Regions from separate parts of the Homo sapiens genome. Here regions 1, 3 and 4 are each linked to region 2. The links come from fine-mapping of genetic effects on gene expression. A gene starts in region 2. Each other region holds a variant in brackets. All regions are shown on one strand. Distances are from middle to middle. Region 1 overlaps FRMD1 (FERM domain containing 1). Region 2 holds the start of AFDN (afadin, adherens junction formation factor). Region 3 has its middle 10 kb from the start of LINC02487. Region 4 overlaps AFDN (afadin, adherens junction formation factor).

The links.
Region 1: its variant is fine-mapped to the expression of AFDN in lung (TOPMed, PIP above 0.99).
Region 3: its variant is fine-mapped to the expression of AFDN in whole blood (INTERVAL, PIP above 0.99). The same link has a PIP of 0.9 or more in blood mononuclear cells and monocytes.
Region 4: its variant is fine-mapped to the expression of AFDN in whole blood (TOPMed, PIP above 0.99).

The regions. Positions count from the first base shown.
Region 1 is chr6:168,047,143-168,053,494 of GRCh38, reverse strand. FRMD1 (FERM domain containing 1) reads left to right here. Exons shown (of 11, transcript NM_024919.6): 11 at 1-400. Among named protein-coding and RNA genes, the nearest start is that of FRMD1, 29 kb to the left of the region's middle. RefSeq lists an enhancer at 4,579-5,078. The variant T/C (reference allele first, on the strand shown) is at 2,674.
Region 2 is chr6:167,823,271-167,829,532 of GRCh38, reverse strand. AFDN (afadin, adherens junction formation factor) reads right to left here and starts at 2,622. Exons shown (of 34, transcript NM_001386888.1): 1 at 2,296-2,622. The coding sequence starts at 2,400. It overlaps AFDN-DT (AFDN divergent transcript), which reads left to right and starts at 2,737. Exons shown (of 2, transcript NR_027906.1): 1 at 2,737-4,130; 2 at 4,727-5,643. RefSeq lists silencers at 2,470-2,669, 3,584-3,653 and enhancers at 2,820-2,899, 2,930-2,999.
Region 3 is chr6:167,703,349-167,709,700 of GRCh38, reverse strand. No RefSeq gene overlaps it. Among named protein-coding and RNA genes, the nearest start is that of LINC02487, 10 kb to the right of the region's middle. RefSeq lists enhancers at 637-1,357, 1,358-2,079, 5,877-6,352. The variant C/T (reference allele first, on the strand shown) is at 3,258.
Region 4 is chr6:167,909,694-167,914,693 of GRCh38, reverse strand. AFDN (afadin, adherens junction formation factor) reads right to left here. Exons shown (of 34, transcript NM_001386888.1): 14 at 3,532-3,593; 15 at 3,205-3,410; 16 at 1,271-1,291; 17 at 381-526; 18 at 1-50. Among named protein-coding and RNA genes, the nearest start is that of HGC6.3, 68 kb to the left of the region's middle. The variant G/A (reference allele first, on the strand shown) is at 2,750.

The DNA of each region.
Region 1 (6,352 bases), 220 kb before region 2:
ACGTTTCGGGGTTCCCAGTCATGTCGTCTCTACCTGTAGGAGCAGCAGGGAGTCTCAGGACAGGATGGCCAGGGCCAGAGGTCACCTGGTGAGGCGGACATGTACTCCCAACCTGGGAGGTGTGGGGACTGGAAGAGAAACAGAGCTGGCAGTGGGAGGCTGGACGTGGTAGGCAATGCCGGTCCTGCAGCCGGGCCCATGACCGTTCTCACGGCGGCGAGCTGTGATGGGGAGGCTGCCTTCCAGGTGCCAAGGTTAGAAAACAAATCCGGGGCAGCCCTGCCGGGAGAAAGCTGGTATTCTACAAAGGCGCGTGAAGAGGTGAACACGCAGTGGGGAAAATGGCGCGGGTTAATTGTTTATTAATCACAGGCAGCTCACCAATAAAACCGTCACCAAATATTGTGTTACTGTGTTTTTCAGCTTTTTAAACTTTGTGATGTGGTGGTTTTTTAATGTTTCTGTATTTAGATTTATTTTCATACTTTAGAATTTGTAATCTTATCTTTTGCCCTGAAGGAGGGCTCCCCATCACCATCTAACCATGGAAGTTTCAGGCCTCAAAACGGGGCCCAGGGTGAGGACTCCTCTGATCTCAGAACCTTGGGTCACACAGCGGCTGCCATTCCCTGCTCACATCCCCTGGCTACGGATGAGGCCCCCGGGCCACTGGGCACAGGCTGGGGCTCCCTCCCGGCTCGCCGCCGGCCCATGCCTGGTTCTCCAGCCGCCCCAGGGTGGCAGTGTTCATCCTGAGTCCCCTCCTGGCTCTGCCCTGGCATCTGTGCTCAGGTGACCAGCCAGGCCTCCCGCTGGCAGGGGTGTGGTTCTCTCCATTCAGCCACTGCTGCTGTCACAAACCAGTGCACGCAGCAGGAACTGGACGTCACCGTCACCAAGTGGGGACCTGTTCGCCGCACCCTCTGTTGTCTGTCCTTGGACATCAGGGCCATTGTCCGCCCACAGCCCTGGACATCCACGCTGTTGGGGCGGCGGCAGGGCCTGGCGCAGTGGGAGAAGAGGAAGAAGCATGTCCTCAGAGCCAGATGCAGGAGTGTGCCCTGTGGGGTGCGGGCCAGGCTCCCTCCTGAGCGGACATGGGAACACGTAACAGTGGGAACAGGCCGGCCTCCAATGGGGGCCTCTGCAGGAGGTGGGCTGGGAGGAGGACGCGCCTCAGGAGCCTCCGGGATGCTCTTTATGGCCAGGCACGGTGCTTCACACCTGTAATCTCAACACTTTGGGAGGCCAAGGTGAGCGGATCACTTGAGACCAGGAGTTTGAGACCAGCCTGGGCAACCTGGCAAAACCCCATCTCTACAAAAAATATAGAAATAAAATTAGCCGGGCATGGTGGCGCCTGTGGTCCCAGCTACTCGGGAGGCTGAGGTGGGAGAATCACTTGAGCCCAGGAGGTCAAGGCTGCAGTGAGCTGAGATCATGCCACTGCACTGCAGCCTGGGCGATGCAGCAAGACCCTGTCTCAAAAAAAAAACCAAAATGCTCTTTGTTCTCTGAGGAAGGGGCTGCCCAGCAGAAGGTGGTGGGAGGGCATGAGGCTTTGGCAGCCCTGACAGTGCATGGGTGGAGTGCCCACCTGTGGGCTGGGGTGCAGGTCTGGGAGGCCGGCACTGTCCCCCTCGGTGGCAGGTGTGTGAAGTGAGGCATCCAGTGGGGGTCCGGGGCCGCCTCCCCGCAGCCTGTCCTTGTGTTTTGCTTCTCACATGTGATTCCTGGGAGCAGGTGCCCTGGGCTCCCAGAGAGGCTGCAGGACACACACCAGCCCCGGCGTGTCCACTGCACTGTGTCTTCCCTCTGGTCACTACAACAGATCTTCATAGGCCGTGTGGCCTCACTCTGCCCACTCCTCATGATTCTGGAGGCTGGAAGTCCAGGATCGAGGTGCCGGCCAGTTCCATTCCTGGTCCAGGCCCCCTCCCTGGCCGCTACGTCTTCTCAGGGCGGAAGGGGCTTGCGAGCTCCCAGGGCCCCCCTTACAAAGGCACTAATCCCACCCGTGAGCCTCCATCCTCACAACCTCACCGGCTCCCACAGGCACCCCCTCCTAACACCATGGCCTTGCTGGTGAGGATTCCCACACAGACGTCGGGGGGCGCACTCAGCCCACCCTGCATTACACGCTGGGACACATCCGGCTCATCAGTCTCCATCCCGGTCTTGGGATCTTCAAGGCAGGAGCCTCCGGCCTTGACTGCAGTTTCCTCGGTGCCAAAGCAAGACCCCGGTACAGGAGGCAGCCAATAAATGGGCACAGAACAGGTGAAAGAGGGAGGGAGGGCCAGCGGATTGGTGCTCTGTGCACCTCAGTGGGCAGGGCTGGCTTGCTCTGGCTGTGCTAACTGTATACACCTCCTTGTCCACCCAGGCTGAGCCACAGTCCACATGGCTGTGATGGAGCTGAAGCCCCTGCTGAGGGGCAGCTGGCGTCCGGCCACGCCCACCCCACATTGTTCTGGCCCCCCCCACCCCATCCCGGGGCTTGCCCGAGGAGCATGGCTGAAACTACAGAACGTCCCTAGCACTTCAGGGAAACAGATGTAAAATATCCGTGGGTTTTGGCCAAGCTCCACCAAGAAAGGAGAAGGTCCAGGGAGTTATGAGACCCCCAGGGCGTCGGTCACCCAGGTCCTGCCCACTGGGCTAACAGCTCAC[T/C]GGCCTCCCACAGCAACACCCCCAGGGTCAACATTCCACCACCTCGGTCTCCACAAATGAGGTGTCTTCCATTTCTGCTAACTAAGCAAAGTCAGCGACTGGATTACAAGTTCCCAGGCCCAGGGCCTTGGCCACGGCAAGGCTGCTGGGCTCACACTGTGCTGAGGAGGCCACGGCTGCCCCAGCCACACATGGGCCCCCGGCTTGCCCTCCGTGCGCTCCTCCTGCCTCCTCCGACCGCTGCTCTTTCCCCGAGTATCAGGGCTGGGCCAGGCTGTTCTCGAAGTGAGGTCTGCAGTTAATTCGGATTGTGAGACGAGCCTGGTCCCAGACAGTCCTGAGGGAGCATCCAGGGCCGCAAGCCTCACTGCACGGCCTCCCACCACTCCCCAGGGCCTGTTCCTGGCTACGGGGGAGGGGCACAGGCAGCCTGCGGAGGAAAGAGCAGGCAAGAGAGATCTGGGGGAGCCAGGCGTCCCCCCCATATCTGGCCCCCTCCTGCCTCACACTAAACGATGGCCAGGGCGGGACTCTGGGCACGCAGGGACCTCCGGCGAGTACCAACAGGCCCGGGGGCTGGTGTCTGTGACGCTCTAGGACGGCAGCGTGCGCCCCTCACAGGGTAATTATAGTACAGATCACTCGGTCCGGCACAGGCAGACACTTTGTCATTCCCCCTTTGCCACTGTGGACCCTTCAGGCCTCTGCACAGAGGCCGCCCCCGCAGGGAAGCCACCCCGGACCCCGAGATGGGGCCGGGCCCCTGTGGTTCCGCTCTAACAGGCGCCTGTCGCAGCTCTCACACCCTGGGTGGCTGTGGTGTCTTCTGTCCTCCCCATTTGGGCTGTATTCCCCGCACAGTCTCCACGTGCCACCTAAACCTCTGCTGAGTGTTTCCTCCCACAGATCACTGGCAAATCTCTTCAAAACCAGCGGCCTCTGACCCGCTACAAGCTGAAGAGGACAGGGTGTTTCATTCCAGCCTTGCAGTGTCCTCTGGACGAAACCGCATTTGGCACCCAGAGCTGCCCCAGCCCTGGGCCCTGGGCCCCCACCCCACCCCACCCCCACCCTGGCCCCCGGCAATCTTCCCTCCTCGGGGCCTGGGCTCCTTCCCTTCCTCCTCTCCTCTCCTGAGCCTGCCCATGTCACAGGTTCTGTGGCCAAACGGCCTGAGGGAGGCAAGGAGGGGGTGCTGTCCAGGTTCAAGGCGCCCCTCCAAATATGCCTCGTCCAGCTGTGAAGCTCCCAGACATGTCAGCCCTGGGAACATAAACCTCGCACCAGAGTCACGCACTCACCCCATAAGGCGGCTCTCGTGCATGAACAATTGTGCCGTAGGTCAGCGCTGGGGAGGTCTGGTTGTGCTCAGTTTGAGGAAGCCACGAGTGTTTCTGGAGATGCATTTCTCCGTGGCGCTGGGACTGCCCTCCAAAGGTCCACGTCTGTGAGAGAAGGAGCCGGACCACGACTGAGGGGCAGACGCTCCTTCCCGCCCACTCACAGGCGCTGCGAGTCAGTAAGTACGTGGACTTCCACAGCCTCAGCGTCCTTGCTTTTCAAATGGGTTGATCCTAAACACCTTCAGAGGCCCTGAGCCAAGAGGAAGAAGCTAATGAACATGAAGATAGTAACCCCAGAGCAGAGCTGTTAATTGATGGGACGTCTTTGAGTTTTAGTCACTGACTAGTTTTGGGTTTTTTTTCTGTATGTTTCCTGGGTCCGTCCCTCCCTCTCCCTTCTTAGGGGCAGCGTGTCAGCACCACGGTGATGGGCCACTGAAATCACTGGTGGTGGCCAGCGGTGGGGTGAGTGCCTGCAGCCCCACACCCTGGAGACTGGGCTGGTTTGCTCTGAAACCCTGGCACTCTGGGTGTGGCCAAGTGGACCAGGGTGAAGACTGGGCCCAGGCTTCCTTCTAGGAAATGAGGAGTTGGGAGTGAGAGGCAGACGAAAACCTGGGAAGCGAGGACTCAGCTGCACGCCCTGTGATGGGGCAGAGGGTTCCAGTCTGCAGCGTGGGGGCGTCGAGGGTGGCAGGCAGTGGGGTCCGGTGCCTGGGGCCCAAGCGCCCCCCACGCCCACTGCCCCAACTCCCAGTCTCTGTAGACGCCCTTGCTCTAGGCTGTGACTGGCAGGTTCCTGAGTCACTCGCGCCTCTGCCATCCCGCGTAGAGGCTGGCCAGAGCCGGTCCAACACTTCCCCAGAGGGAAGCTCTGCCATTTTCACACGGTGCCCGTCTCGGGGCACCACTGTGGGCCCCACGCAGCTGTGGGGCGAGGCGTCCACGCATCCTCTACAAAGGCAGCTTGGTTATCACAACGCCGGCCTTGCTCAGAGAGGAACTTCATCAAACACACAAAGAAGGCTTGTCGAGTGTCACGCGGCTCAGCCAGGCTGTCCCTTCGGTCACGCTATGGCAGCAGCTCGGGCCCTTCAAGGTCAGAAGGAGGACGGCAGGGCCTGGCGGCAGTTGTTGCTTGGCACTGCTGTTCAGTGCGGGCTCCACAGAGAAGCTTCCATCTCACCAGAGCTGCCACCTCCTGAGTCCATCATTTGTGCGTTGGTGTCTCTGTCCTACTAAAGGAACTTCGCACCTCAGCAAGCCGGTGAGGGGCTTCCTGAGCCAGGGGCATCTGCCTGCCTAAGGGCCAACCCTAAAGAGAAGTTTGATTTTATTTTGGGCACTGAGGGAGCATCTCAGAACCTGTGGGGTCATTCAAGTCATCACAATGATGAGGGGACACAAGTGACATTGAGCAGACAGGCACCAAGGACGCCAGGTCCCCATAAGGCACAGGACACTCCCACCCAGCAAATACTGTCCCGGGGGCCACGTGGCTTTAGCCCCCGTCAGACATTCACAGGTGGAAATCCTGCATTTGGTGATCCAGGCCTGAAACCTCACACTGCTCTCCATAAAATCAGGAAGGATTATTTCTGCAGTTTTAATGTACATTATGTGTCAGGAATGCAACAGTTGTGTAAACCAAGAGAAGCTGAAACTTTGTAACATTACCAAGAGGTTTTCACCATGTACAAAATTATATCACATTGCTATACTGCTGGTGACATGTGAGTCACAAATGGGACACTTGTGACAATTCCATGTCTGTGTGTCTGTCTGCTTTTTGTAGCGGCCACATTCCTGGAGATTTTACATGCATGTACGTGCACACACACACACAGATACAGTCACTTGGCCCTTATTTTTAAATTGTCGAATATACATAAATTGAATATTGTCTTCCTTCTTATACCGAAACTCATTTACTTCGCTGTGTGTTCAGATGTAGTTGTTTTGAAAGTTTTACGAATTGAAATATACTTATGTGTATATACACAGAAAAAAACTTTTTATTTCTCCATTATATTTTTATTTTTATTATTTATTTATTTGAGACTGAGTCTCGCTCTGTCGCCCAGGCTGGAGTGCAGTGATGCGATCTCGGCTCACTGCAACCTCAGTCTCCCAGGTTCAAGTGATTCTCGTGCCTCAGCCACCTGAGTAGCTGGGATTACAGCTGCCACCATGCTCAGCTAATTTTTGTGTTTTTAGAAGAGACGGGGTTTCACCATGTGGGCCAGGCTGGTCTCAAACTCCTGACCTCAAGTGATCCGCCCGCCTCGGCCTCCCACAGTGCTGAAATTACAGGTGTGAGCCACCGCATCTGGCCT
Region 2 (6,262 bases):
AATGCTTCTGTTCTTGCAGAAAACTAAAAAATTGGACTTGTGATGGCCAAATAGAGTAAAAATAATCATTAGATGGTTAAAAAAAAAAATTCACACGAGCTTAGACAAAGCAAATTGAAACTGTTGGCCTTGAAATACTGGCTGAGAGAATTACTCATATTAAGTTTACCTACATCATAATAAAAGATACAATATGTTAAATGCAAAGCTTAACTAGGACCAGAATAAATTTAATAGTACAGGAAAGTTCTCGAGAAAACAAAATAGAAATGTGAGCCAGCCACTATATAGTAAAAAAGCTAAAAAACCAATATATGGACATTCTTAAAAACCATTCATTTCATTATGAAAGGCTTCTAATACAATTCTGAAGAATAATTTCTAAAAATGGAAATGTTCAGATATAAGTAGGGAGAAAAATTAGGAAATGAAATATATCATCTTTTTTTCCAAGTCCTTCAATTCTTGTTTTGCTTCAGTGTATGTACAAAGCAAACTTTCACCTACAGTATAACTGAAAAAACAGCTTTCCAAATGACAGGCCAATTTTAAAAACTAGTCATATCACTAAGAAATAAAAAGTTTCAATTGAGTGCTTAAAATAGAATTTAATTAAATCAATGAACTATAATGTTTCTGATTTGAGATTTTTTTAATGCTAACTCAATTCAAAATCCCAAAAAGCTGAATTCTCTTTATTAAACCGAAAAAAGATTCCTTTCCACCAGACTTGAGAAATCTCTCAAAAAAAAAAAAAATCCATTCAAACAAAAAAAAAAAGCTACACACCAAGAAAATGTTTTATGGTCAACTTTTTTTACCTTGTGATAAAAAGAAAAATGAATTCATTATTCTAAAAGAAAACATAATCCTGAAACTAAATTATCATGTCACCTTTCTAAAGATACACTAGTCTATGAACGAACACTTAAGTACATAGTACTAACTCCCTTACTAGAACCTAACTCATAAAATCATTACAGAAGATGAATGAATCAGGAGTAACTTAACATAACATCTATGCTCAAATTGACAACCTGAGCCTAATGGCGTGTGTCAGTATTCAACTCAGTATTAAGACAAATGGCTAGCTACCCACGTCAAGTGCAGTCACAGGTACAGATGAAAACAGAAGAAATAGAGTCCTTCCCATGACTGGCAAAAACTCAAGAAATCAGAGAAGCAATAGTCAAATTCTCTCAAAAACATAAAGTGGAATTTAATGATAAAAGGATTACATTTCGTAAGAATGTTCAAATCTGCCAAACATGTTTTGTTGCCTAGGAGCTAGTATTTTATAGCAAGTATTAACTATAAATTACCTATTACAACAAATCAAAAATAGACGCTATTAAAATGATTTCCTAAACGGGCACAAATATTGAGTGAAATTTTTTTATGCTGGTAAAGTCTGTGCAGCCACCGAATGAACAGAGCGCGGAACCGACCCTTGCGGAGCGATTTACAGGGTTGCTCCCCGACCCTTCACCTCCCTCCCCTCTCCACGGAGCCCTTCCTAGTGGACTTGGACTCAAACATTTTTTTAAAAGCTGCTCGGAACGCTTTCAGCAGCTTTGCTATAAACAACCCCCATTGTTACCAGGCCAGGAGCGAGCGTGATTTCCTCCTCCTCTCAGGGAGCCAGCCTGGGGCCGGCGCCTCCCTCCGGGCAGAGGCCGCCGCAGAGGGCCCTTCCTCGCGGCCCCGAAGGTGGAGAAGGCGCGCCTTTCCTCGGAGGCGTCCGACTCCGGGCCTGTGCCATCAGGCAGCCCGCACCTCCCGAACTTTGTGATACTGACTTTCCCCTCCCAGCTGGCAGCCTGCAAGTTTATGAACCCGAAGCACAGCGCGCGTCACAGGCTCCATCCCGGCCACGGCGAAGGGGCGCCGCGAGCCACAACCGGGCTGCAGGTGGAGGGCGCCGGCCCCGCGCGCCGCCGCGCCCCCCGCGCCGCCGGGGATGAGGCCGGGGCCGCGCCGCGCTCGCGGGGGTGGGGGCGGCGGCCCAGGTGAGCCACCAGGTGAGCGGCCGGAGAGGGGAACAGGTGACTGCCGCGCCCCGCCAGCCCCCGCTCGGCCCGCGCGACCCCGGGATACACCGCGGCAGGGGGACGGGGGCTGCGGGGGACGCCGGGGCCCGCGGTGGGCCTGGGGGAGGGGGAGGGGAGAGAAGGGGCGGAGGGGGGAGGGGGAAAGGAGGGCGGGTCCGCGGCTGGCGGGCGGCGGCGGGGGGGAGGGGCGGGGCGCGGCGCAGCGGGCGGGGGTCGCGCAGGCCCCGCGCCCGGCGGTGCTCACCTCGGTCGGCTGGCTGATCTCGAACAGGTCCAGCCGGTTGGCGTTCCAGTGGTGGATGATGTCGGCCAGCTTCCGCCGCTCCTCGTCACGGCCGCCCGCCGACATGGTCCTGGCCGCGCCTCCTCAGCCGCGCGGGGCCGGGGCCGGAGGACGGGCCGAGGACGACAGGTCCGCGGGGGCCCGGCGCCCCTCGCCACCCCCCGCCGGCCGCCTCCGCCTCCGCGGCTGCCTCCGCCTCCGCGGCCGCGCCGCGTCCTCCGACTTGGCCTCCGCCTGGGGCTCAGTCCGCGCCGCGCCGCGCCGCCTCAGCCCCGCCGGCCGGTGTGCGCCCGGCGCCCGCCGCCCGCCGCCCGCACCCGCCCGCGCCCCGCCCGCCGCCGTGCGCGCCGCCGCCCGCCGTGCGCGCCGCCGCCCCGCGCGGCGCCGCCGCACCTCCGGGCCGCTCCACTAGGTGCTGCTGCCGCGGCCGCCAGGGAGGGAGGTGTCGGAGGGCGGGCCCCGCGCGGTGCTAGGGTTCCGTCTGGACTGGCGGTGGTGGGTCCCAACCGGCGGTACCGGGTTCCTTCCCGACCAGCGGTGCTAGGTTCGGTTCGGACGCGCGCTGCTGGATCTAAATGGGCAGTGCTGGGTCCGATGGGTGGTGCTGTGTTGGGTCCGGACGCGCGGTGCAGAGTCCGGACGGGCGGTGCTGGATCCAAATGGGCGGTGCTGGATCTGGACGGGCGGTGATGGGTCCGATGGGCGGTGCTATGTTCGGTTCGGACGGGCGGTGCTAGGTCTAAATGGGCGCTGCTGGGTCCGATGGGCGGTGCTGCGTTCGGTCCGGACGGGCGGGGACGGGCGGTGCTGGGTCCAAATGGGTGGTGATGGATCTGTGGACGGGCGGTGCTGGTTCCAGACGGGCGGTGCTGGGTCCAGACGGGCGGTGGGTCCGATGGGCGGTGCTAGGTTCGGTTCGGATGGGTGGTGCTAGGTCTAAATGGGCGGCGCCGGATCCGATGGGCGGTGCTGGGTTCGGTCCGGACTGGCGGGTCCGGGTCTGGACGGGCGGTGCTGGATCCAAATGGGGGTGCAGTGCTGGATCTGGACGGGCGGTGCTGGGTCCGAACGGGCGATGGGTCCCATGGGCGGTGCTAGGTTCGGTTCGGACTGGCGGTGCTGGGTCTAAATGGGCGGCGCTGGGTCCGATGGGTGGTACTGGGTCCGGACGGGCGGTTCTGGGTCTGGACGGGCGGTGCAGTATCCAAATGGGCGCTGCTGGGTCCGGACGGGCGGTGCTAGGTTCGGTCCGGACGGGTGGTGCTGGGTCTAAATGGGCGGTGCTAGGCTCAGCAGGGGACCGGTGGGCGTGGCGGCACAGGTACGGAGCGCAGGGCCGGTGGAGCGCCCTCTCCGAAGGGCCCTGCGCTCCCCGCGCTCGCTGCTCCTCCTGCCCGCGCATTGCCCCGGGGCTGCTGCGTGTTTCTTCCAGGGTGATTCCTTTCCGCTGGGTCACTTCAAAGCCGACCTTTTCAAGCTGTTTTCTTCCGCGGAGGACACGTTGTTAGGCTTTGTGTGCATTTCAAGGGTCATGTTTTCTGAACCGCGCTCTGCCGCTCTTGGGGTGTTCGAGCCCCCACACTGCTGTGCGGTGTTCCTCTCACAGAGTGAGGTTGGAGGGTCCCACTCCCTTTGTGTGTCTCCTTAGAAAACGCCTCTTCTCTCAGACACATCGTTATCTGCCAATTCTTCGCAGACGTAGAGAACGGACTGCAGAGTTAATAAACGTCGAGGGGAAGCTTTGATGCGCCCCATTTGGCCCTGAGAGATGCCACGTGATCGTCATTTTAAATCCTGTACGTGTCCCCGTGGACGTGGAAACCTGAAATTAATTTCAGTAGCAAGCTTTGTGAATTGTAGGGATTTTTTTTCATAAGGTGTCTTTTTTGTAATTGCCCCTCCCCTCCCCCACCCTTTGTTTTGGCTGCAGAGCGCCATCTCTGCAGTCTCCCCACGCCGGGTTCAGTCAGGCGAAGTTGCGTTATCTGTGATGTGTTGTAACAAAAAGCGTTTATCTTTGAAACACTAAGGCAAGTAATGAGAAGAGTGAACTATATTTGACAAAGCCTTTTTATTTTTGTCATTACTTTTTTTTCCAATGTGGAAATAATTTTTCTCTCCACCAACTGGATTTCCTCTTTTGCAGACAATTAAAGAATTCTGTCATCCCCACTGGGTTCTGTCTTTTCTACCGCACTTGTCCAGTACAGCTACATAAGGAGGCTTCTCAGCAGAGGAGCCTGGGGTGTTGAACCAGTGCCATGAGGGAATGAATTATTCAATAGATCGCTAGTCTCCTTTCTTAAAATTAAAGTGTGGTGACTTGCAGAAAAGCATCTGTGTCTAAATGTCATCTTCGTGTTCTAGCACTCGGTTTCTTTATGCCTTTCAGTTCCTGGGCTTCCCGATGGACTCGAGTTTTTACTATGTGAGCATCCCGGTGCCTGCACAGCAAGGACTCTCATTGGGTTCCACACGTGCTGCGCAGATCCCTGACGCAGCGTTCACTGAACCTCAACTGCAGGAGCTTCATTCCTGAGGACGCTGTTACCAAGAATGACTTGCCTCTTGAAGAATGAGTTTGCAAAGCCGGCAGTTAGATTGCTGATGTCCAAAGTAAGTATGTGTAGCATCACTAAAGAGAAAATTCAGGATTCCTGGAAAACAGTTATGGGCTCTCTGCAGTGTTATTTTTGTAATAAAAAACATATAGCATATGTGAAATACCTACTGGGTGATGCAGGACACATAGAAGGCTCGAAATTAATGTGAATCATTCTCGTTTTTCTGACTGTCATTAAAAGTCCCCATTTGTATTATGTATGAGTGGTATATCAATATCTAAACTACACTTTATTGTAGGTCCCAACCAACATTAGTTTATTGACAAATGTTTAAGAGCAGCCAAAAATTCATAGAATACCTATGATTCTTAAATCATGAACACTCCCATAACTGGTATATGTTTAGGACATGAAAATTTCCAGGCTGACAAATAATTTCGCTGTCATCGGTCAAGACTCCAGGATGATATTCTGAGCCATATGTTAATTTTGATAACCACCTAGAACAATAAAAGGTAAACATGCTACCATCTTCTATTCTCATTGCACCACTGGATTCTGGTACATCTAAAAATTGTACTTAAATGATATCCAAGAAATGCTGTAAAAAACAAAATAGGGCCGGGCGCAGTGGCTCACACCTGTAATCCCAGCATTTTGGGAGGCCAAGGCGGGCAGATCACGAGGTCAGGAGATCAAGACCATCCTGGCTAACACGGTGAAACCCCGTCTCTACTAAAAATACAAAAAAAAAAAAAATTAGCCGGGCATGGTTGTGGGTGCCTGTAGTTCCAGCTACTCAGGAGGCTGAGGCAGGAGAATGACGTGAACCCGGGAGGCGGAGGTTGCAGTGAGCTGAGACCGCGCCACTGCACTCCAGCCTGGGCGACAGAGCAAGACTCTGTCTCAAAATAAATAAATAAATAAAAGAATGGGCTTTTCTGTTATTAATTCCATTTTATACATGGTGAGACTGAAATGCAAGATAAAGGACTGGACTGAAGCTAAACAAACCTGCACTGGGCGAGGTTGAAAAAGACCTTTTTAATCTATAAGTCGGTTTTTGAAAATTCAAGTTTCTACTTTATAATTTTAGTTTTCCTTTTAAACGTATATTATTGTTAGTTGCACTGTTCAAAAAGTTTTACAGCTTCTATTTCAATCAGCACTGGTATACTAATATTTTTAAGTATCTCCTATCTAAAACCAAAATCTACGTAAAACCTAAAAGTACCAGGTAATAGAGGACAACAGAGCAAGACTGTCTCTTAAAAAAAGAAGTATCACATAATAGGAATAAATATGAGGACAGAAAGTAATAATATTTTTGAATTTCTGATTAAACTTTGCACTTACTTTAAAAT
Region 3 (6,352 bases), 120 kb after region 2:
GAGGTGTGATGGGTGATGCCAGGCTGGTTCACAGGCTGTGGGGTGTGATGGGTGATGCCAGGCTAGTTCACAGGCTGTGGGGTGTGATGGGTGATGCCAGGCTGGTTCACAGGCTGTGGGGTGTGATGGGTGATGCCAGGCTGGTTCATAGGCTGCGAGGTGTGATGGGTGATGAGGTTCACCCCCCGATACTTTCAGCTGAAGCTATTTGAGAAAAGTGCAGAAGCAGGAAGCCACACTCACCTTCCTTCCTCCTCTCCTGACTTGGGTCATAAAAGTCAGGCAGGACTCTCTGGCCCTCCCGGGAAGCTGGTCTAGGAGCCCCGCCTGTGAGAAGTGGCCACCCCATCATGTGGAGTGGAGTGTCCTTAGCTCGGGAGCTGAAGGGCCACACAGGCCTGCCAGGTCCCCCCGCTTTGCTGCCAGTAGATCATGCTGCTTCCTTCTGTTCTTTCCTTCCACCGCCCCATTTTCACCAAACCCCCTGTGAAACACACTCAGGCTCGCCTGTTTCTTCGGGTTGGCATTTCCTTATGAAGGCTCTTGTGTCACATAAAACTTAGATGAAGTAAAATGTGCACTTTCCTTTGTCCATCTGTCTGTTGTGATAGAAGCTTCAGCCGTGAACCTAGGATGGGTGAGGAAAGACGTCTTTCCCCTACTGAGCAGCTCTGTTGGAAGTTTTGCATCCTTTCCTTCCTCCCCTGTTGGCTGCTATTCCCAGGACCCCTTCCTTGTCCACTGTCCCTCCCTTCCCAGCCTGAATGCGACAATGGAGACTGCCTTGGGACGGCTTGGAGGGCCTCCACTGGCCTTCCCTTCTGTGCCTCTCTTGCTCTTCCTGCTGTCCCCACCCCTGTGGGTCTGCATCCTGCAGAGGTGCACACGGTTCCTGTGGGACAGTAGAGAAAGCATAAGCTATACACAGGCTGCTGAGCAGGTGCCACACGCTCTCGTGCTTAATCTATTCCTGGACCTGGGCTACAGAAACACGCCAAGAAAAAGGTGTAGAAGTTATTACCCTGAAAGGAAAGAATCATCAAAACGAAATTCAACAGGTGTCACCCAAGGATGTTGGCCTAGGAAGGCACTCCCTGGATGCGGCGCCGTGCTGTGGGGTGCCTGCGGCTGTGGGGTGTGCCTGGGCCCGCCATGGGTCCAGGGCAGCCTAGGGCGGGTGTGGATGGGAGCCTGCAGGGCTGGGGTCTCAGTGGAGCGGGAATCCTGTCTTGGCCCCAGGATCTTCCTGCAGTGCTTCAGGTAACATTTTTCTAGGCTGCAGGAAGATTTCCAGGAGCTTCCTTGAGATGGCTGCAGCCTTGTTTGCGTCCTTGGTGAATACGTAGATGTTTCACGATTCTTGGTCATCTCTGAATCCGGGAGATCGACGCTGAGTCCTACTGGCGCTCCTGCTGCCTCGCTGGGCTCACTGTGGGTGTCCAGCGGCCCTGGACCAGCCCAGATGCAGCCTCTCGCCTGGAGGGTATTCAGGAAGGAGGCCAGTGTCAAGCAACTCCACCCTATGGATTCTGTTTCAGATAAAACATGCTCATTTGGCCAAGGCCAACACAGGCACCCTCCCCCTGCTTTGTCTGGACGTAAGCAGCTGAGGCTTGGCCCTGCACCGTCAAGAGGTCTACCTGGCTGCAGAGGCTCAGCCTCCCCCCTGAGCACTGTGGGGTGTCTTCCACCCTCCCCATCACATGCTAAGCTCTTTCCTTGTAGCCATGGGGCATCGTGACAACATATTTAGCAAAATGCCACAGCTGTCATACGTGTGTTTCTCCAGCTGCTGCTTCTGAGCCAGCTTCCCAGGCCTCGGATAGACCAGAGTTCGCTCATCATGCCGTCTCTTCAGTGACTGATTACGCGGGAATTCGGGAAGTGCCGACTTTCCCCGGATGACTGGGTTTCTTGATGTGATACTCCGCTCAGCAAATCCTACCTTCCTTTCCCTTTGCAATTCTTGAGACCATTTTCTGCTTGACAATAAAGTGACCTTAAGGCACCGTGTTCATTTCAGTTTCAGACAGTTGTTTTGCTCCTTTTTTCCTGTGAGAGAAAGACACGAAGCCCCCTTCCCTGCTGCCGACTTTCTTGGTGTGTCCCTGATGCCAGGCCACCTGTGTCTTCACGGGAAACTCCACAGACCAGGGGCTGTGTAAGATGTCTGGGTGATGTACAGTCACTTTCTGCAAACTTAGAGCATGAAATAGTCAGGACAACATGTCAGCCAGGTCATACCCTTCAGTTGACTATAGTTTTGTCTGGGAGTGAAATTCTAAACTGCCAAGCAGCTTCTGTGTTATGCTGTAATCATTTAGAGCCTTCTCATTTTTGTAAGACTTTTGACTTATCTGTTTCTTGCTTAAATGCTTTCTTCTTTAGTTACGCCTTTCCTGGATGGACATGCGGGCTGTGCTATGTCTGGAGAGGCACCGGGAATCCAGTCACTGAGGCATGCTCACCGTGGCTTCAACTGTGGGCATTGATTTCTTCCCTGAAACCCTGGAGGAGACACATCGGGGCTGTTCTCCTGGCTTCTTCAGGTGTGTGTTCACACCTGCATCTGGGCCTTATGGCCTCCCTCACGGGGCCACATGGGAAGGCCGGGTGCAGGGAGGCTTCTGTGGTGGGGCTGGGGGTGTCTTGTGAGCTTCTTCCTCTCCCTCTTTTCTTCCTTTGTTGTTGTTTTTTTAAATCATGAAGGAAGAGTGATTCCCAGAATCTCACCCCTCTGGACTTACCCTTGGTCTCATTGGCCAGAGCTGGCCACGTGACTACCATACTGGCCATGGAAACTGAGGCAGCAAATATCTGGGTTTTCAGGCTATGGTGGGAACAGCTGTTGAGAACAGCAGCCGGGTCTCAATCGTGGACTGAAGTAAAGCTGGCTGTAGGTCCTCATCCTGCTGTCCCGTCGCTGCAACGAACCGCAGCTCCTCTCATCAACAGGGGCTCCTTTCCCACCCTTGGAGGCCGCGCAGCCTCTGACTTGCTTTGGCCGGTAGGAAGGGGGCCTTGCCCAGCCGAGGCCTAAGACGCCGTGAGCTCTTGCAGTTCCCACGAAGCCCTGTACTGTCACGAGCATCTGCCTGGGGCCCTGAGAGTCTCTGCGGGGCCCAGCTGGCGTGGGAGGGGGCTCGGCAAAGCTAGGTGAAGCCACCCAGCCGAGCCGGCTGAGCAGATGCATTCATTCTCCTCCGCCCCAGCTCAGAGAGCAGCCCTGCCCCAACACCACCTCGACGGTGAGCAGG[C/T]GCCAGTGGTGGTGGTTACGTGCACAGAGGTTTGTGGTTGTTTCTTGTGGTTACCACTGTGGCAATAGATAACTGATAATGGAAACAATAGCAACTACAGACGCCCTCACTATAGAATATTTAGAGGGCTAAAAATGTGTAAATACAGAAAATCACCCGGAAGCCTACCCTGCAGAGAAAACTATTATTAACACTTGGCAGGGGTGCCTTTATTTTTCTATATACTCCTTTTTCAAGTGTAGACATTATACGGTATGTAATTTTTTTCATTTAATGGTAAAAGTTTGTTTTTCATTTTAATGAACACTCTTCTTAAATATCAGTGTAATAGCATGTAAATATTGGGTTATTTGTATAGTTCAAAATTTGTATAAGCATTCCAATTTTGGATATTTGAATTTTTAAAATATTAATGCAATGAACATATCAGTACATAATATTTTTGCTCATATGCACTTTACTTCTTTCCTTAAGATGTATTCTTAGAGATGGGAGTCCTGGGCCAAAGGCAGGTGGCAGCGTCCCCGTCCTGTACCCATCCCGCTGCCTTCTAGGAAGCTGGGGCTGGGTCGTGTGCCCACATCCCATGGATGGAGAGTTCTGTTTCACTCACCATCAGCAGCACAAAGCGTCATCATTTGAAATGTTTCCTTCATGCTTCTAGAAGAAAGGTGTTTTCATTTTAACTCCAGTCGCATGGTGCTCACCTGCTGTGGTGCGTGTCTGTCTCCGCCAGCCGCAGGCACCAGCACGGGAGGCTTGTGTGGCCCAATTCTGGCATTGATATTTGTGGGAACGTGGGTGGACAGGGCCCGAGCAAAGTTTGCTAGTCCCTGAGAAAACAGCCCAAGAGGACACATCTCTTCCTCTTCCACTGGCCATGGTCAGATCTGAATGTGACGGTGGGACCATCGCAGCCTCTCTCGACCCAGGGTCCTGGCTGCCTGAGACGCGCAGAGCTCCTGAACTAACCAACCCTGAGCTCGCCCTGCCCGGATCTGCACCTCCGTTCTTTAAGGAAATGCACGTGGTGCTGCTCCAGCCGTCAGGCTTGTGCGTGTTCTCTGCGGCTGGCGCCTCCCGCGTGCCGTCCTGTGGCCTCGCCCTCCTCCTACTGCTGCTCGGCAGCTGGGGGCTTCTCTCCAGGGTCGTGTGATGGCCTTTTGAAAAATGTAACCAATAAACTCAGACACCTGGAAGCTGCAAAGTGTGTATGTGCCTCTTAATAAAAGATTTTTTAGCATGCTTGTAATTACAAATTTGTTTGCAATTAATATTAAATAAAGAAATAACAAAGAAGAAAAAGTAGATTTCTGGTTTGGTCCTTCCTGGGCCAGCTCTAGTTCAGGGGCTCTGAGGATGCTGTGGTCAGAGAGGCCCTACCAAACACCCCTCTCAAGACCTTTCTTCTCTGTATGGGTGGTGGAGACACAAAATAAACAGGGCTTTCCCTGTGAGGGACAGAAATAAAGAGGATTCAGAGAAGGCCACTCTGAGGAGGAGACATTGGACCTACCACGTGAAAAGAAAGAGAAGGAATTCACTTCAAGAAGGGTGAATTCTCATCAAGACCAGTGAAAGAGTATTTCAAGCTGTCTTGGTGCTGCACATTTGGCAGTAAAACCAGGAGCTTGGAGTACAGTGGTCTGAAGCAGCAGGTCCAGCGACAGCTGCCAGAGGAGGGTGGGCCTCAGGCTGACCCCGGGCAGGAGCTCTGTGCTGACCGTGGAGTCTGCTGGGGCCACTGTGCTATGTCTTCCACTGCTGGCCAAACCTTCGCCCAGGGTCCTGGCAGTGGCCAGAGGAAAACAAGCCAACCACGTTCAGACACGTTCCTGGAGCTGGGAGGAGTCTCTCTGGAACTGGGAGGTGTCTCTCCGGAGCTGGGAGGAGTCTCTCTGGAGCTGGGAGGAGTCTCTCCGGAGCTGGGAGGAGTCTCTCTGGAATGAGGAGGAGTCTCTCCAGAACTGGGAGGAGTCTCTCCGGAACTGGGAGGAGTCTCTCCGGAGCTGGGAGGAGTCTCTCCGGAACTGGGAGGAGTCTCTCCGGAACTGGGAGGAGTCTCTCCGGAACTGGGAGGAGTCTCTCCAGAACTGGGAGGAGTTGCTCCGGAACTGGGAGGTGTCTCTCCAGAACTGGGAGGAGTCTCTCCAGAGCTTTGAGGAGTCTCTCCGGAGCTGGGAGGAGTCTCTCCGGAACTGGGAGGAGTCTCTCCGGAGCTGGGAGGAGTCTCTCCGGAACTGGGAGGTGTCTCTCTGGAGCTGGGAGGAGTCTCTCCGGAACTGGGAGGAGTCTCTCCGGAGCTGGGAGGAGTCTCTCCGGAGCTGGGAAGTGTCTCTCCCGAACTGGGAGGAGTTTCCCTGGAACCCCCTCCCCTCCCAGGGCTGAGTCAGCGTCCGAGCCGGGAGCTGGGGCTGCCTTCCAGAGGCTGGCTCCCTCCACTGAGAGAGGCTCAGCCCTCCCTGGGCATTTGGGCTGTGTGGGAGACAGAGACACCTGCATGAGACCATCCTAGAAGGGAGGAATCGCATGGGTGGGGGCAGCTACCAACAGCGTGGAACACTCAGGGCCTGAGGCTGGAGGAGCCTGGTTTGCTCAGAAACAGAGGAGGCTGGCGTGGCTGGGACATGGCCCTGGGAGATTGGCAGACATGGGGCCTGAAATGTCTTCAAAGGCTGCCGACAGTGGAGCATGGGGGCAGTGTGAGGCAGGAGCTGAGGGTCAGCCCTCCACAGGCCAAATGTGTCCAAGCCCGGTTCCTTGAGAGCTAAGCCCAGGCCTTCAGGAGCTGAACCATGCCTGCCTTCCTCACTGGCCACATACGCCCTGTGGAGGGCTCCATGGTTACACACACACCGTGGAGTGGGTCCATGGCCACACACACACTGTGCAGTGATGACCCATACTCACCGTGGAGTGCGCCCTTGACCACACACTCAATGGGGGGTCCAGCAGGCAACAGAAGGAAGCAGTGAGGCTCTTATTCTTTGTGTAGTCGTGAGTCGCTTAGCAACGTTTCAGTCCATGATGGATGGCACAGACAACGGTGGGCCTCTGAGATGATCGTGGAGCTGGAAGACTTCTACTGCCTTGTG
Region 4 (5,000 bases), 86 kb before region 2:
AGGCTGGCATGTAATTATTAAGTTCTGATTGAAGACAGTGAACCAAGTATCTGAAAATACATAGACAATTTAAGTAATCTTAGCATGACAGACAGCTATTGTCAGACATGTTATCACATGGGAAACAATCTGGACTCTTAAAAAATATTTTCCATTAAAAAAAAAATGTGGAATCTTGAAACATAGCTCACTGAATTCAGTATAACTATATTAAGGATATAACTATAGGTAGTTAATACATTTTGCAAAAATGTATGCTTCTTTATATTCACCTTCAATCAAGGTAAATATAAATCTTAAAATTAGTTTGGAAAACTGAATAAGAAAACAAATGACTTAATTATTTAGAGTAGTGCCGCCTTCAAAAATGTGTTCCTTACTTAAATGCCATTTGAACCAAATGTGCTAAAACATCTTGAGCATCCAGTGTGATCCGACTAAGGTCTCGGTCTTGCTTAATGAAGTTGAGAAGTTCAGATGCATTTGCCATCCAGAAGGCAAGTGCCCCTGCAATATTCTTCTGTTTCTGTAGACAGAACACACTTCCATAAGCAACAGAGAATAAACAAAAGTAATAAAAATATAAAGGAATGCTCTTGAAAAGCTGCTGAAGATAGACCAGTACCTTCCCATTTCACCAAGGTATTTACCACAGATACCAGATATTTGCAAAATAATTTGGGTGCATACATAGCAATGGGAAGTAAATAACCACTGCAACTATTTCTTAGGATTCATGCACATAGACATATGGATTCAGTTAGCTACAATTTATAGATGGAATCAGCGGAGAAATGGAGATATCAAATAATATAACACCAAATTGTAGACCGTGCATTATCTGGTAGTCTGTGCAGTATACATACATGTATCCATGGTTACCCACAGCCACCCTGATACTTGTAGTCACTGGCTTGGACACCATGCAACTCAGTATCAAGTACTGATCTATCACATCCTCTCCCGACCACATGTGCAGGCCAGGCAACCTCAGATGAGATCCAAAGAATAGGAACCAAGGATAAATAATAAAGAGAAGAAACAGAACTTTTGTCATTTCATATCCACACTGAAGTGCATTAAGCAGAAATTATGAAATGCCGATAAAGGTTGCACAGTCAAAAAGGGTTTTAGTACTGCATGTCTCAGTTGCTGAATGAGTGTTATGAGCTGTTCAGTCCAGCTGTTGTATTACTTATTTGACATGGGAGCAGCATGAGAAACTTGGCTAAGCAACACAGCTAGGATCAGCTCCCAGCAGATGTCCTACCTGGTCAACCTGGTCTACTTCCTGGAGAAAAACAGACGAGGGGAAATCAAGCAGAACGAGAGAAAGAAACTTGTAAACAATCATGATAGTTTAAAAAAATCAAAACACTAATATGAAGGTACGACATGAAGGTACGACATTTAGTTATGTTATTCCCAAAATAACATTTTCATTTATGGTTCTGAAGCACCTTTAGAAGTATACGACCTAAAGGATTAGTTTTATGTTCTTACCACTGGCACAATAACTAACTGTATTTTTAGAGTTTATCAATAAATATGATGTTACCATAAACACACATGAACACACTGATCTCTTTAAAAGATTTACAATGGAAGGACTTGTGAACGAACATCTTTCAGTGATATGGTGTGCTTACTACTTACTTAAAAGGTACCTAATAAGGTGAAAGTCCATCCCTCTAGATTAATTAATAGGAATGGAAGAGACAGGAAAGACCAAGAAACAATCAAAATAAAAGCTGAGAAGATGAGAATTTAAAAGTGTATAAATAACTTACACCTATACTAAAGGGAGCAAATTCTTTGTTTTTTGAAAATAGAATTTAAATTATTCACTACCACAGTTCTTTTCCACTACTTTAAGATTCCCCCCACTGGATACTAACCCTAAATCTGAAGTTTAAAAGACTTGTTTGATAATGGTGATTTCACTGACTAGTTCACATCAATAAGGAAAAGGCTATCAAGGGTAGTTTTATGATAGGTGTCTCACAACTCGAAACAGGCTTAGTAAGTCCAAACATGATAGAAGACAGACAATGGCTTTGAATGACAACTGAAAAGGAAATCCATGTTTGTTTATAAAATAATGACATGAAAGTAACAAAACGGTATCCAAATAAAATGACTTTCTTTTTTACCTATTTCCTAACTTGGGTAAAAGAAGCATAACCCTATCAAACTCATGCTAATCACTCAAATATAAAAGAAACATTTCTTGAAAAATTCTGGCCTTTGAAAACAATTCTGAAGGAACTAAAAGATCTTAGTTTCCCTCAAATGATCCTGCCAGGAGAAAAGCAACCAATCTATCTATGTTATTAACATTATATAACTAGAGTTTTATTAAGTTAAATAACAACATTGACAAGTGATTCAGAAAAACTGAAAAAATCTGTACATTTACTTTTAAGAACTTTAAAGATTAAATCTTCAAATCATCTGTAGATGAAAAACTGCTATGAAAATTTTATCAACTGTAGATCGGGACAGAAAGTACGTAAAGGAGTCAAACCATTCTACCAACAAAATACCTTTATCTTCTGAAATTTTGAAAACAGGTTTATGACAGAATTTCATTTTAAGTGAGAAGTATGTTACAATGTCCATTACACCTACACATGTGCTATCAAAAAGCCCAATTACTACCAACGTCTAGGCTCATTACACAGGAGCAAGTGACTTTTGAGAACCATTTTTAAAAAGTCTAAGAAGGCGTTACCAGGGAACGGGGGAA[G/A]AGAAAAACCCCAGGAACTACTTGAGGGGTATCGCTCTGAGGTGATGGAGACGTTTTGGAACCGACAGGGGTGGTGGCTGCACAACACTGTGAATGCACCAAATGCGACTGAATTGTTCACTTCAAAATGGTTAATATTATATGAACTTCATCTCAACAAATTATTTACAGAAAAAATTCTACAAAAGCCCACAACAGTCTCAGCACTTTCTCACAACTATTACTACAAGTTAACTTCACTTATGCTGAAGTTTTACAGGGAAAACAAAATAGAAAAAAGCTTGCATTTCCTTTCAACTCTTTAAAGTTATACATTTTCCTACAATATTTACATAACTTTTATTTTAGAAAAAAATCTTGTAACCAAATGAGAAGCCTTAAAGAAGCTGAATTCACTGGCTTAGCAATTACAACCACAATCACTGGAGGAGCATGGCTGGCCGGCTGGAACGTACCTGGATGACACCCTCCATCATGCTCACCATCTTGTTGACGACTGCAATGACTTTATGTGTGCGCTCTGTAGGGCTGATGTCAGGTCTGTACTGGTTGGACAATACATACCGGCATGCCATATATAATACATATGTAGGGGACAACTTAAAGTGGACTGTAGAGCTATTAGTATAATTTATAATGGCAGACAAAAATGAATCTTCAGCTGTGGAAAGATTTCAAAAACAAAGAAAAAAGGAAAAAAGAATAAAAACGAATGTGAAAATCAGATGGAGTAAAATGGATCAAGAAATAATTCATTGACAATGAAATCTGAAATTACTCACAACTTTCCCTGAATTCAATGCTTGCAGGTAGTATCAGCTCAGGCCCAGAAGCATCCTGTGTTCTAAAAGAAGAAAGCTGACATCACTTAAAATAAGGTCACATGGCTAACAATATTACTGACAACCTGTGTAGATTTCTGCAACTACTTTTTAAATCTATATACTAATCTTTCCAACGTAAAATAATAAAATATCCCTTGTTTTCAGATGTAGCCTAATCAAATAATGCATTGGGAGTGATCTTATCACGACTCCTCTAAGAAGGTTAGTTCCTTGAAGTATATGCCGCCGCCATGACAGCAGATCTGACGTGATTCTGGATTATTAATGAACACTTCATGTCTAGTACAGGGATCGGTCTGTCTTGCATCTGCTACAGCTATGGCTCAGGTAACACTGAAAACAAAGTACTAAGTGACACAAAGAAAAACTAACCATGCCAAGCTTGAAACGGAGTTCTTATACTGAAAGGGAAAAGCTTCCTAAGACCTGGACTTTGTCTTTCTCTGCTGACACAGGGTTAGACAAGCTGACCACGGCAAGTCTCCTTCAGCCATTACTATCATCATTTTCCAATGCTTACAGTGACGCATGCCTTATAAAGAGATGTTCTACTCACTCACATTTCTTCTTACGGTCACATAAATTCCAGGTCCCTTCCACCATTTAGCCTGACACTACACAAATAAGGAACTGTCAAAAATTATAAATACAAAGAAACTATAATTTGGAACATTTATAAAAACTAGCATTGTGCTGATGTTTATCTATTTCCAGGTATTCAGATCAAATTAATTCAAAAGTTAGGTTCATTTCTATCTCTATAAAAATATTCTTCAAACAGTGTGTCATCACCCATTGGCAGGGCAGAAGGCTGTTTTGTGAAACTACTCTTTCAGTTGAATACACATTTGTATGTGTGTTCACCAGAGCACAATGTAAGATATAATCTTGTGTTATAACCACAGTTCAAAAGCATTTTGAAAGCCATTGCTAGGCACAGACTCTTTAAATGTGTAAGATAATAAATTACAAATCCAGTTTAGATTTCCTTATCTTTGTGGATTTATGCTTTTCTCAATGAATAATGCTCAGCTTATTCTTTCACTTAGCCATGTGATTAGAACTTCAAGCCATTTACTTATTACTCTAAGTTCGCTACCCACTGTATTTTATATACAATATTTACCAAAAACCAGCGAAACACATAGTCAAGTGATTAGCTTCCTTAACATTTCAATGTCTTTATCATTTTAGTTCAACTTTAACAGAGATAACCAGGAAGAATTCTCAAAAATGTCTCTGAAAAAATAAGAAAATTTAAATTGACAGTAAGAGCCAGGGAACATGTGTTTTGCCTTCCGCAAACTTAATGAAAAATGAAATTGTGGGGATATTAATGACTTAAACTGTGATGAACATCTCTACTGAGTTAAATATTGACTTAAACTGAGACTAATACTTACTCA